Homo sapiens: one gene and its partners. The protein of the gene in region 2 interacts with the protein of the main gene of each other region in a biochemical or structural test. Each region holds a gene or a part of one and is shown on either strand. Other genes may lie near its edges.

The links.
Region 1: the proteins of ARVCF (region 2) and ERBIN interact in a test that uses a peptide from one of them, tested with the Homo sapiens proteins (3 studies listed by BioGRID and IntAct, with this or other methods).
Region 3: the proteins of ARVCF (region 2) and CDH15 form a complex in vitro, tested with the Homo sapiens proteins (one study listed by BioGRID).

What each region holds. Positions count from the first base shown.
Region 1 is NC_000005.10:65,924,766-65,928,510, reverse strand, and holds the start of ERBIN (erbin), read right to left. Parts: upstream 1,937-3,745; 5' UTR 1,705-1,936; intron 1-1,704. UniProt on the Homo sapiens protein: Acts as an adapter for the receptor ERBB2, in epithelia. By binding the unphosphorylated 'Tyr-1248' of receptor ERBB2, it may contribute to stabilize this unphosphorylated state.
Region 2 is NC_000022.11:20,010,178-20,013,922, forward strand, and holds part of ARVCF (splicing regulator ARVCF), read right to left. Parts: intron 332-3,745; 5' UTR 278-331; intron 1-277. UniProt on the Homo sapiens protein: Contributes to the regulation of alternative splicing of pre-mRNAs.
Region 3 is NC_000016.10:89,181,679-89,185,423, reverse strand, and holds part of CDH15 (cadherin-15 preproprotein), read right to left. Parts: intron 1,877-3,745; coding exon 1,732-1,876; intron 252-1,731; coding exon 91-251; intron 1-90. UniProt on the Homo sapiens protein: Cadherins are calcium-dependent cell adhesion proteins. They preferentially interact with themselves in a homophilic manner in connecting cells; cadherins may thus contribute to the sorting of heterogeneous cell types.

The DNA of each region.
Region 1 (3,745 bases), on a different chromosome or scaffold from region 2:
AATTCTCTGTAAGGGACTTGCTCTATTAAGGTTTTGTTGCTTTTGAAGCCAAGTATAAGCCATATAAGGAAACTGAAGTTCAATGCCATTTATTTTGTTCACCTCTTTCAGATGCCCAAGAATAACCTCTTTTGCAGCCTAATGATACGTTCCAAAATCATAAAGTAGATGAGTTATGCACTTTAAATTCTTTGATAAAGCTAGTTTGACTTAACAAGAATTATTCCATGGTTCACAAATCTTACCAACAATGAAAAAAAAAAAGAATCTCCTGAGACCATGCCCCGGGGAGGAAAAAAAAAATCAAAACTACAGTAATAAATAAAGGACTGCCTTTGGAGATGTACTTAATGAAGCTGAAGTAGCAAAGAACAAATTGTGAAATAATTTGATCCTGATCTTTAAAACTTATTTTTTCTCTTTGAACTAAAGAAAATCAACTCTCTCCTCGGGTTTCCGGTCATTACGTGAGACAGCATAGGCAATCTAAACATCAATATATATTTAGGATATACCTACCAACAGGATTACCAAATTTATTCAATATATATTCAAAAGTACAGTATTGTATTTCACCTCCCTGTACCGCAAAAATACCGGGAAAAAAAGTAAACAGAAAAAGACTAAAACACCACTGAAAAAAACTTTGGGTTTACTGCTATCAAAACTAGTCCCCATTGGTTCAGAAGTGTTCATAGCTCTGACTGGTGGAATGTCTGCCATGCTTCATGAATCCTGCCCCCACAGATGTAGGCAGAACCTATCACTATTTATGCAGAACCGACCAAAAACATTTGGGACAACACAAAAATGTAAAGACCATACTACTCGAAAAGCACAGCTTTTTATCACAATCACTGTGATTCCCTTGAAAATCGTTTTAAGCGTTTTACTTCCCCTCCCATCGTCTGTTCTGAACTGTACAGAAGTCCTATTAAACGTCTTACAGGTTGTTAATGTTGTTTAATTATCTCTCCCTATTCTTAGTCCTTACTCCTTTTTTCTTCGTAATGGATCAGTTACAAGAAAAGCCTAGTCGATCCTTGCTTTCAATTAATTAAACAAGTTATACGGCGCTAAACGTCTGAAAAACACACACTACACACAACTAAAGAAATATATTACTCACCCTGAAAAACAACTAAGAATGGCAAGATTTTTTGGTTTCTAAAATCTAACTAAATATACTGATCAGGGTTGGAAATAAAAAAATAAAAATAAATACCTCTATATACAATTAACGCAAGCGCCAATATAATCGGTATGAGTATAAACAAACGCGGCAGCCATCTCAATAACAGCAAATCACTCACTGCAGCGACCAAACTTTCTTCCCAAACAGAAGGTGCCTGGCTGAGCAACTTAATATACACTCTATACGTTCCAGAAAGCCAAAACTTCTGGCCCCTGTGCTGAACAAAGGCAATCGTTCTTCGGATTACTAAAAACTTTTCGTCCCACCGCATTCTTACAACCTCTTCCAAAAAATTCAAAGTCCAGATGGTGGGGGGGGCAGGGGGGAGAAGGGACGCGGTGGGGTGCAGTTCGATTATTTAGCCCCTCAATTATTAACCGCTTCGATATGAGAAAAGGAGGGTTTAGGGCAACTTGGAGAAGAGTGAAAAACACTAAAGAATCATCTCTTTTCCGAGTCACAAAGTCCCATGAACTTTGTGACTCAGAGACACTTTTCGTGAAAATTACCTTTCGGCGGGACACCGTCTCAGGGCAGCTTTTTCAAGGCTTCGCTTGACATGATTTCCTTCCCTTCATCAGTCACTTTGGATCCAGCTGAATATCTCTCTCGGGTGAGAGCGGATGTGGACTGGCCTCCCACAGAAGAAGAGTAGGTGGCTTTGGTGGGGGTTGGGGTGCGGGCTGGCTTCCTGGTCTCGAGTTTTGCAGGAGTTTCCCAGCCCCAACGAGGATCTCCGCCGAAAAAAAAAAAAACAAAACTTTTCACTCGTGACACCGCCCGGAATTGCAGTGCGAAACTCACTTCCTGCCTTGGCGAGAAGCAGGATCCAGCTCCGTCCAGGGGAACCCGGAAAACCAGCTCCGCGCGCACCGGAGAGGGGGAGGGGAGGGGACGGCCGCCGGGAGCCTCGGGTTCCGGGCAACCGGCGCGCCCGGCACACCGGACGGCAGCAGCACCCGGCCGGCGGGGGCGAGGACGCTGCCCGGGCGCTCGGCGAGCCTCGGCCGCGCTAGGCCGCCACCGCTTCCTCTCCGTTGCCCCCAGAGCCGGGCGGCAGGGTTATTGTCTCGATAGCGCTTGCCGCGCCCTTCGTCCGCGACGCCGCTGCCGCCGCCACCCGGAGCCGGAGCCGAGGAGTCGGGCAGGCTCAATAGCGGCCCCCTCCCCGGGCCGTCCGTCGGGCCGTCCGTCCTTCCGTCCGTCCCTCCCCGCTTTCCCTACTCGCCCTCGAACCCTCTTCTCCTCCCTCTCCCGTTTTCCCGCCACCGTCCCTCCGCTGCCCTGCTTGTTCTCCTTCGCCAGCGGCGGTGGCTCCCCGAGACGCGCAGGGGGCGGGAGCAGGAGGCAGCTCCGTCTCCTCACGAGCTTGCGGGGCCGCGGCAGGGGCCGAGACTGCGTCCCGCGCCGCCGCGCCACATTCACTCGAGCGAGAGACGGCGAGGGGAGGGAGGACGGAGGGAGCGGAGAGAAAGGAGGAGGAATGGGGCAGGGGCGGAGGGGAGTTACTGCCTCACAGGCCGCGGCGGCAACAGCGCCACCGCCCCGGCCGCGACGGGTGAAGAGGCTGCGCGCCGCGACTCTGCGGCGGGGGCGGGGGCGGGGCGGCCTCCCGCCGGCTTCGCCCCAACCGCCAACAGCCGGGCAGGAGGCCTGCGCGGGCCAGTCAGCGCGCGGGGGCGGTGCGGGCCGACGTCGGCGGCTGGGGGCAGCGGGCCGGGGGCCGGGGGAGGGGCAGCCGGCGGCCGTGGGTTCGCGTGCAAGGCGCGCCGTGAGGCCCACTCTGGCCCAGGCCCCTCGAGGCCTGCCCGCTGCTCCCTGCCCGCTCCCCGACCCCGCACTCCCGGACTCCCGAGCCCCCCAGGGTGGGGAACGCTGGCAACGCCGACCCTGCTGTCTGCTCGCGGCCCAGCGCCCAGCCAGAGAGATAGAGAGCCCACAGGCCTCCGCCGCGCCGGCCGATGGAGTTTCTTTGTACGACAGTAATCGGTGCACAGGGGTTGTTGGAGTCCAGCCCTGATTTGAAGGCAGCAGGTATCTCTTGCAGCTGCAGCACTCCAACTTCCTCTAATGGCACGGTCAGGTCGCAGGAAACCACAGCGGCAGCGCGGTGCAGCTTCCCACGCCCGCCCTTCGAGCTTGTTCCCCAGCGGCGCAGCTCAGCCTCCTCCAAGTCTCAGCCTCATACCGGCGGGGAGACAAAGCTGGCGCTGGGAGTGGGAAAAGGGCCCGCGAAATGGCCTCAAGATCGTGCCTTTGTTAGAAGAAACATGGGTACGCTCCGATGCGACGCAGGCTTCCAACCCCAGCGGTTCGGTGGTGGTGCAGTCGTTGAATTGCGCTGGCCCTAATAATTCAGCCTGGCAGGGTTCGCGTTTATTGCGGAGAGAGACTCTTAAGCATTCTGTCAACACATATGGCAAATAGAAAGCCTCAACCATAACATTGCACAGTTTTTGCAGTTCTTGCTTTAAATATGTTCACAGAAAAGACGGCCTTGTTTTACCCAGAGAAGGAGCGTAATGCGGAGCGAACCATTCGTCACCCCCA
Region 2 (3,745 bases):
GTCAGCCAGCCCCAAACAGGCTTGTCCCTAAAGCCAGACATCAAACCAGTGGCTGCTGCCCATATTCAGGCCAGTAACAAACCCAAGCTGGTGGCAGGAGGCCCTCACATCCACCCTGTCCAGCCCAGGGGCTGTGCCTACCCAGGGTGAGAAGGACCAGGAGCACACAGTGTCCAGGGCCAGTCCATCCCTGTCACCCCCACCCGCCAGGCCCACCAGAACACTCTGCTGTCCTATGTGGGAGAGGATGTCCCCAAGCTAAACCCAGGCCACTCACCTGTCTTGAGGGAAGATCAGCATGTCCCGACACCCACCCTGCAGGCTCTGGCTCCTGCAGGGAAACCAGAGGGCATGAGTGAGGTCAATCCAGCTGGGTAGGTCCCTGCCGGATAAAGGTACACAAGCCCAGACCGTCCTCTAAGCAGGACCTTGTCATGCCTGATCTGAAGGTCATCCCGTGGTGCTCCTGACTCATAACCACACACTCATGTGTACCTTCTTGCCCCCACATGTCCAGGACTGTAGGTGACACTGGGCTGCCACGGTTCCTTGTCAGCATGTCTAATGCTGTTGACCATCCTTCAGAAACGTGATCCTTCAGAGATGTGGACTGATAATGACGTCTTCCCCATCACACACAGCACAGCAGTATTCCCACCCCAGGGTAGCCAGGCTCAGGGTCCTGTTGCCCCACGCAGGTGCTCACAGCCCCATAAGACATCTGCTCCACCTCCCTAGAGTCCGCTCCCGCCTTGTGGGCGAGGCCACGTGCCTCTCCTGAGGTTCCCTGAGGCCAACATAGATCCTGGGCCCTCCCAGGCAGGCAGCTGCCCCCAACAGTCTCCAGTACAGGGAGGGCGGGGAAGCAGGCAGGTTCCTGGCCCTGGAGCTGTGGCCAGGTGTGAATAACCATTTGTCTGGGATGGGGGACCTGGCACTCAAGCCTGGGGAGCTGAGGCTTATGGGCTGGAGCAGGAGACAAGGGGGTGCCTGTACTCACACAGCTTTCAGCCTTCCTCAGGGGAGGACCCTGCGGCTTCCTGTCTCAGCTAATGGCCCCGGGGACACATTCCCTCTCCTTATATCTAGGCCCGGGGATATTGCCAGAGTGTTCATGTCATAAAAATGAAAAACAGGACACTGCAGACAGACAGGGAAGGGCTGGGCCTCGGATGGGAGGCTGTCTCTGGGGGACATCGGTAATGAGAGCTCTCTCCCCCGCCTCTACGGTGTTTTCTAGATTGTTCTGAGGCCCCGCCCAATAGTCCTTTGTGGTCATGGTCCATTCTGGTGCCCCAACGGTGTGTTTCCCCGTCTCACGACAGCCTCTTCATCATGGGAAGGGGTCCAAGTGAGGGTGGGCGACTGGCTACGCCTCAGGGTGGGATCATGGGGGGTGGGATGCAGGGCCTGAGGCAGGGAAGAACTGGGGACCAAGCCAGGCACATGTGCATATGCATGTGCGTGCATGTGAATATGAGTGTGTGTGTGCACCTGAGATGGGCAGGCCCGGTTGGGAGCCCATCCACCAGCACTGCGCCCCGAGGAAGAGGAGATGCTGCTCCTACTCCAAGGTCTGAGGCTTAGGAACCAGCTTTTGCTCTGAGTGTGACATTTCTAGGAAACCTCTGGTTTTAGCTTAAGTGTTCACATAGGTTTTGTACCACAGAGAACCATGTGACTTTTTTTTTTTATCCCTGATAAGCACCAGCCTCTCCCCCGGAGTCACCATGTGCCACAGAACCGAGACACACTGGCTGTGAGCCGTCATCTCACTGACTCTACCAGGTGTCTCAGGTTGGCTATATACCCCATTTTACACATGGAGAAACTGGGTCCCAGCCAGACAAGGGCTGGGCCAGGATTTAACTCAGGTCTTCCTGCCTCCAGGCCTCCCAAAGTCCCCCCCCCCCACCCAGTTGGGGAAGTGTGACCAAAGGAGAACATGGGTCCTTCCTCATGGGCCTCCTACCTCATGGGGTCCAGCCAGGCCAAGAACCTGCAACCATATGGTAGAGCCAATAGCAGACCCTGGGAAGGGGTCCAAGTGAGGCATTGGAGAGGGCTTCCCCCAGGAGATGGGTGGGAGCAGAGGATAGCAGCACCACAGGAGGCTGAGTGGTAGGAGCAGCCAGAGCTGTGGGTATCCTTCCTAAGGGTGCACTAGGCACATCAGCATCGTACAGGCAGGGGCAGAGCAGAGCATCTGTGGACAACCTAAGGGAGCTCTGGGCAGTGGACGGACAGAGGGACGACAGACAGGACAGTGATGTGAAGGCAGAACTAGTGATAGGATCATATGGGAAGGTGGGGAGGTGCTCACCTTGGGGAGCCCCCCTGAGTGCTCTGCAAGCTCTGGGGTCACCTGCCTGGCCAAGGACCCAGTACCAGCCGCCTCAAAGCGGGGGAATGACCACGCCCTTTATTGGGCCCTTTTCCCAGTGAGGATGGCCTGGGCCTACCCATGCCATGGGACCCCCACACTGGGTCTCCCCACCAAACTGTCCAGACCCGATGGCTGGCCATGGGGCTCTGTCAGCCCCTGGCTACACCCCACTGATGCCCTAGTAAGCCCTGTGGTTCTGGCACGGTATCCATGGTCCAACCAGAGGGCTGAGAGGTCTCACACTGGGGCATAAGCCTGGCCCAGGCCACACAGCCAGATTGGCAAGCTACAGTCCTTTGGATAGCTGACGGCACAGGGCAGCTCCCATGGGTACACACTGGGCCCAGAACTGGGATGGAGGATGCAGCCTGGGCTGGGTAGGCAATGAGGGGCCCAGGTGAGCTCGCTCTGCACTCCCTGCAGTGTGGCCTCAGCAGGCCACCCCCTCCCCAAGTCTCCTCGCTTCCTGCTCTATGAGCGCGAGGTGACACTGACTGTAGGTAGCTGAGAACATGCCCTGGCAACAGCCAATGCAGGCAGGTGAATGGAGTGCCCCGTGGCCAGTGGACAGGGAAGGTCCATGCTGCTCAATGACAATGCTGTCCACTACAGCAAAACCGAGTGTTCTCCTAGGCCTGCTGCCACCCTGGGCACATAGTGAGAACACGCCCACTTCTGCTGTGGACATTGAGGCACAGACCACACCTGGGAAGGCTTGGGAGGCCCCTGGGCACACACTTGAAGGACACTGCACTTTTGGGGCTACGCAGGCACAGGGCTAGTCCTTCACTGTCCCTGCTGAGCCTGTGTGTGGTCACCCACCAGCTGGCCTTCAGGCTTCCTTCTGCCTGCACCAAGCATGTTGGGGGTACCGAGGGGCCTTGCTTGGCTCCTTTCCAACTCCACGCCCTCAATAGGCGGCTTGGAGGCCGAGCTCCGGTCATCCAAGCCAGGTGTCTGGGGAAGGGTCCTGGTCTGCCGCAGGAAGCTGGGTGGAGCCGGTCTTGCCTGCTGTGGCGGTCCCAGCTGCCCTCTGGTGGCCATGCTCAGCTCCCCGTTGCTCTGCCAGAGGCGGCAGCCCCTCAATCAGCAGGGGCAGTGGGAAGGGCCTGTGCATAACTGGTTATGGAGTGGGGGGAACTCTGTGGCCCCAGGCACCCACCAGCTCTGGGTCATCTTCCCGACCTGAAACAGGCCAAGATATGAAGGCCCTGAGCCAGGAAAACCTACTAAGGGATCCCTGATCCCAAGTCCCCTCAGAGTGACCCAAGACTTCATCTTGGGTTTTTCTGTTTGTTTTTTTGTGGGTATTTTTTTTTCTTTTTTTGAGACGGAGTCTCACCCTGTCACCCAGGCTGG
Region 3 (3,745 bases), on a different chromosome or scaffold from region 2:
TCTGGGGTGGGCAGGCTGGGGGCAGAGGGACCCGCAGGAGATGGGCTGCCCTGGCCGTGCGGGTGTGGAGCTGCCGGGGCGCCACCTCACCTCGCGGTCCAGCCCCACTTGCACTGTGCGGATCTCTCCTGTGAGCTCGTCGATGCTGAAGAGCTCGGGGCTGCCCTGCTGCAGGATGGAGAACCGCAGCGCTGCGTTGTCCGTCTCGGGGTCGTCGGCATCTGTGGCCTCTGCCCTGGTCACATAGGTGCCTGGGAAGCACAGGGAGGCGTGAGGGCCAACGTCCACAGGGCCGATGGGCTGGGGGCATTGTGAGGGGCGTGGGGGCACCTCGTGTGCACAGGCTCCCCGGTTCCAGCACGGCTGACCCCAGATGGGGCAGTCAGTCCATGCTGCTGTTTGCGTCACCGAGGCGGCCAGCATGCGGCAACCCCCAGGTCGAGATGCTTCCCGCTGCCCCTGAAGCCCACCGTGCTGTGTCCAGGCCACCTATGTGGTCGAAGCCTTTTGCCCGGCTTGTGCTGTTTATGGGGTCGGAGCACAGGAGCATTGGATGCGACCTGGGTCAGGTGCTGGCTCCTGGGCCTGCCCAGTGCAGGGGCTAAGGGCGCTGGGTCAGATTGGGCTAGCTAGCGGGGGCCTCCAGGAGCTGCTGGCATCCAGGGTGACAGAGGATGCATGGGCAGGCTGAACAGAGGACACACGGGCAGGATAAGACAGAGGACGCACGGGCAGGCTGGGCAGAGGACGCAGGGGAAGGATAAAACAGAGGACGCACGGACAGGATAAGACAGAGGATGCAAGGGCAGGATAAAACAGAGGATGCGCGGGCAGGCTGGGTGCAGGACACACGACAGCCGAGCAGAGGACGCGCACTGTGACTGTGTAGGCCAGAGCCCCCGCCCCACCTGCTGTGGGAAGCGGTACTCACGAAGGTGCCGCTAGAGGGACCACATATGGCAGGACCAGGTTTCACCTCCCCCCATTTCCCTCTCCTGAGATTTAGGCCTGACCCCTCTGGCAGCTCAGGTGGACTTAGCCACCGAGGTGGGGTGGGAAGGACGGGCTTTGGGCCACCCTGGGGAGCAGCTCCTGGCTGGCTGTGACTTCCCCCCGGGACAGCTGGAGCTAGGACGTGCTGTCTGTCACCTGGGGCAGAACGAGGCGCGGAGGCCACTGCCACAGACACGGGAAGGAAACTGAGGCGGGATATGAGCCTCCAAGCCTGAGCCTGGGCCAGGCCTGGCCACAGTCCTTGGTAGCCTCAGACACGAGGGGGCCTGTGCCTTTCCACCAGGTCTTTACCACCGGCCCCCAGGGAGGTGGGAGCGAGTCCCCGTGGCTGGAGCTTACAGGTCAGCCTGGGTTTAGGGTGAATCACAACCTAGAGATGCCTGTGGGTGCTCTGGACCCCATGTGAGTACAGGGTGAGGATGGAGTGTGCCTGGCTCCAGATGGCCCCCTCAGCAGGAGGGAGAAGTCATTTGCTTTTGGGGGAGAACAAGACCCCTGAAAAACCTCCACTCCCAGGCTCAGATTTTTGGGTTTGAAATTTATGTTGGAATGGGAAGTGGCAGGAGTTGACCTGTGGAAACGGACCTGCCTCGGAGACTTGTTTACTTATTTTTAGACTCTGAGGGGCCTCTGGAATTCTTGCTTAAGGGAAGTCCTGGACTTCACAGAGCCCTTCCTTGCAGCCCCTCCCGGCCCGGGGCTGTGGTCCTGTCTCACCTGGGACTGCACCCTCCAGCACGCGGCCAGTGAACGCCTCCTGCAGGAAGGCTGGCCGGTTGTCATTCTGATCCACAACTACAATCTCCAGGTCCGTGGGGTCCTCCAGGGTGGATCCTCCCAGGTCCAGGGCAAACGCTCTTAGCTGTTCAAACATAGAGCAAGGGCTGGCTCTGTGGCCCCCAAATTTCTGTGGCTCCCGTTAGGGCCATGCGAAAGAGACAGCACGTTCAGACTTTGTCTCCAGCTGGAAACACCAGCTTAAACAGGCGAGAAACAGCACAGGGTGGGGCATCTGTCACAGTGACTGAGGACGTCCCTGAACGGGAGCCACCTTCCCTTAGCAGACAGGGCAGGTGCCACTTTCCCTGCTTGCCTTGGCAGCCAGGAAGCTCACAGCTTCACGTGTGACTAAAGTAAGGCTCTCAGAGGGTTCCTAATCTCTCTCCCTGTCTCTCTGTGGTCTTTGTTCCTCCTGAAGTTATGTTTTTGTTTTTTGTTTTTTTTTTTGAGATAGAGTTTCACTCTTGTTGCCCAGGCTGGAGTCCAATGGCGACATCTCAGCTCACTGCAACCTCTGCCTCCTGGGTTCAAGCGATTCTCCTGCCTCAGCCTCCCAAGTAGCTGGGATTACAGGTGCACGTCACCACGCCCAGCGAATTTTTTGTATTTTTAGTAGAAATGAGGTTTCATCATGTTAGCCAGGCTGGTCTCAAACTCCTGACCTCAGGTGATACGCCTCGGCCTCCCAAAGTGCTGGGATTACAGGGGTGAGCCACTGCGCCTGGCCTCCTCCTGAAGTTTAATTCCCCTGTGCACATGACATTTTAAACTGCCTCCCATCCTTTCGGAGAATGGGCACAATTACAGTTTCCAAGTGAGAAATACTCTCTAATAACTTTTGATGTAAGGGATACAAGGACTGGTTCTCAAAGTCTAAAGGAGGATTTGGGGCAAATAAAAGGAAATTTTGCTTCCTGCAGAGGCAAAGGCAGGAAGCGTCCTTTCCCCACATCAAGTACAAAGTTACTTTTCTTTTTTTTTACCTTTTGAGATGGCATCTCGCTCTGTTGCCCAGGCTGGAGTGCAGTGGTGTGATCTTGGCTCACTGCAACCTCCACTTCCTGGGTTCAAGTGATTCTCCTGCCTCAGCCTCCCAACTAGCTGGGATTACAGGCGCGTGCCACCACACCCGGCTAATTTTTTGTATTTTTAGTAGAGATGGGGTTTTGCCATGTTGGCCAGACTGTTCTCAAACTCCTGACCTCAGGTGATCCACTCGCCTCGGCCTCCCAAAGTGCTCGGATTACAAGCATGAGCCGTTGTGCCCAGCCCAAAATGACATTTTGGAGAGGGCAGGCTGGGGGAGGACAGGCTGGGAGAGGGCAGGCTGGGAGAGGGCAGGCTGGGGGAGGGGAGGCTTGGGGAGGGCAGGCTGGGGGAGGGCAGGCTGGGGGAGGGCAGGCTGGGGGAGGGGAGGCTGGGGGAGGGCAGGCTGGGGGAGGGCAGGCTGGGGGAGGGGAGGCTGGGGGAGGGCAGGCTGGGGGAGGGGAGGCTGGGGGAGGGCAGGCTGGGGGAGGGCAGGCTGGGGGAGGGGAGGCTGGGGGAGGGCAGGCGCCTGAAGGGAGTGCAGACGGGGTTCTGGTTTTCTGGGCTCTAGGGCTTGCTCCCACTGCCCTTTTTTTTCTTCTTCTTCTTTCTTCTTCTCCTCCTCTTCCTCCTCCTCTTCTTCTTTCTTCTTCTGTTTTTTTTTTTGAGACAGAGTCTCACTCTGTCACCAGGCTGGAGTGCAGTGGCGAGGACTCAGCTCACTTCAACCTTCGCCTCCCGGGTTCCAGCGATTCTCCTGCCTCAGCCTCCTGAGTAGCTGGGACTACAGGCGCACGCTAGAATGCCCAGCTAACTTTTGTATTTTTTAGTAGAGACGGGGTTTCACCATGTTAGCCAGGATGGTCTCGATCTCTTGACCTCATGATCTGCCTGCCTTGGCCTCCCAAACTGCTGGGATTACAGG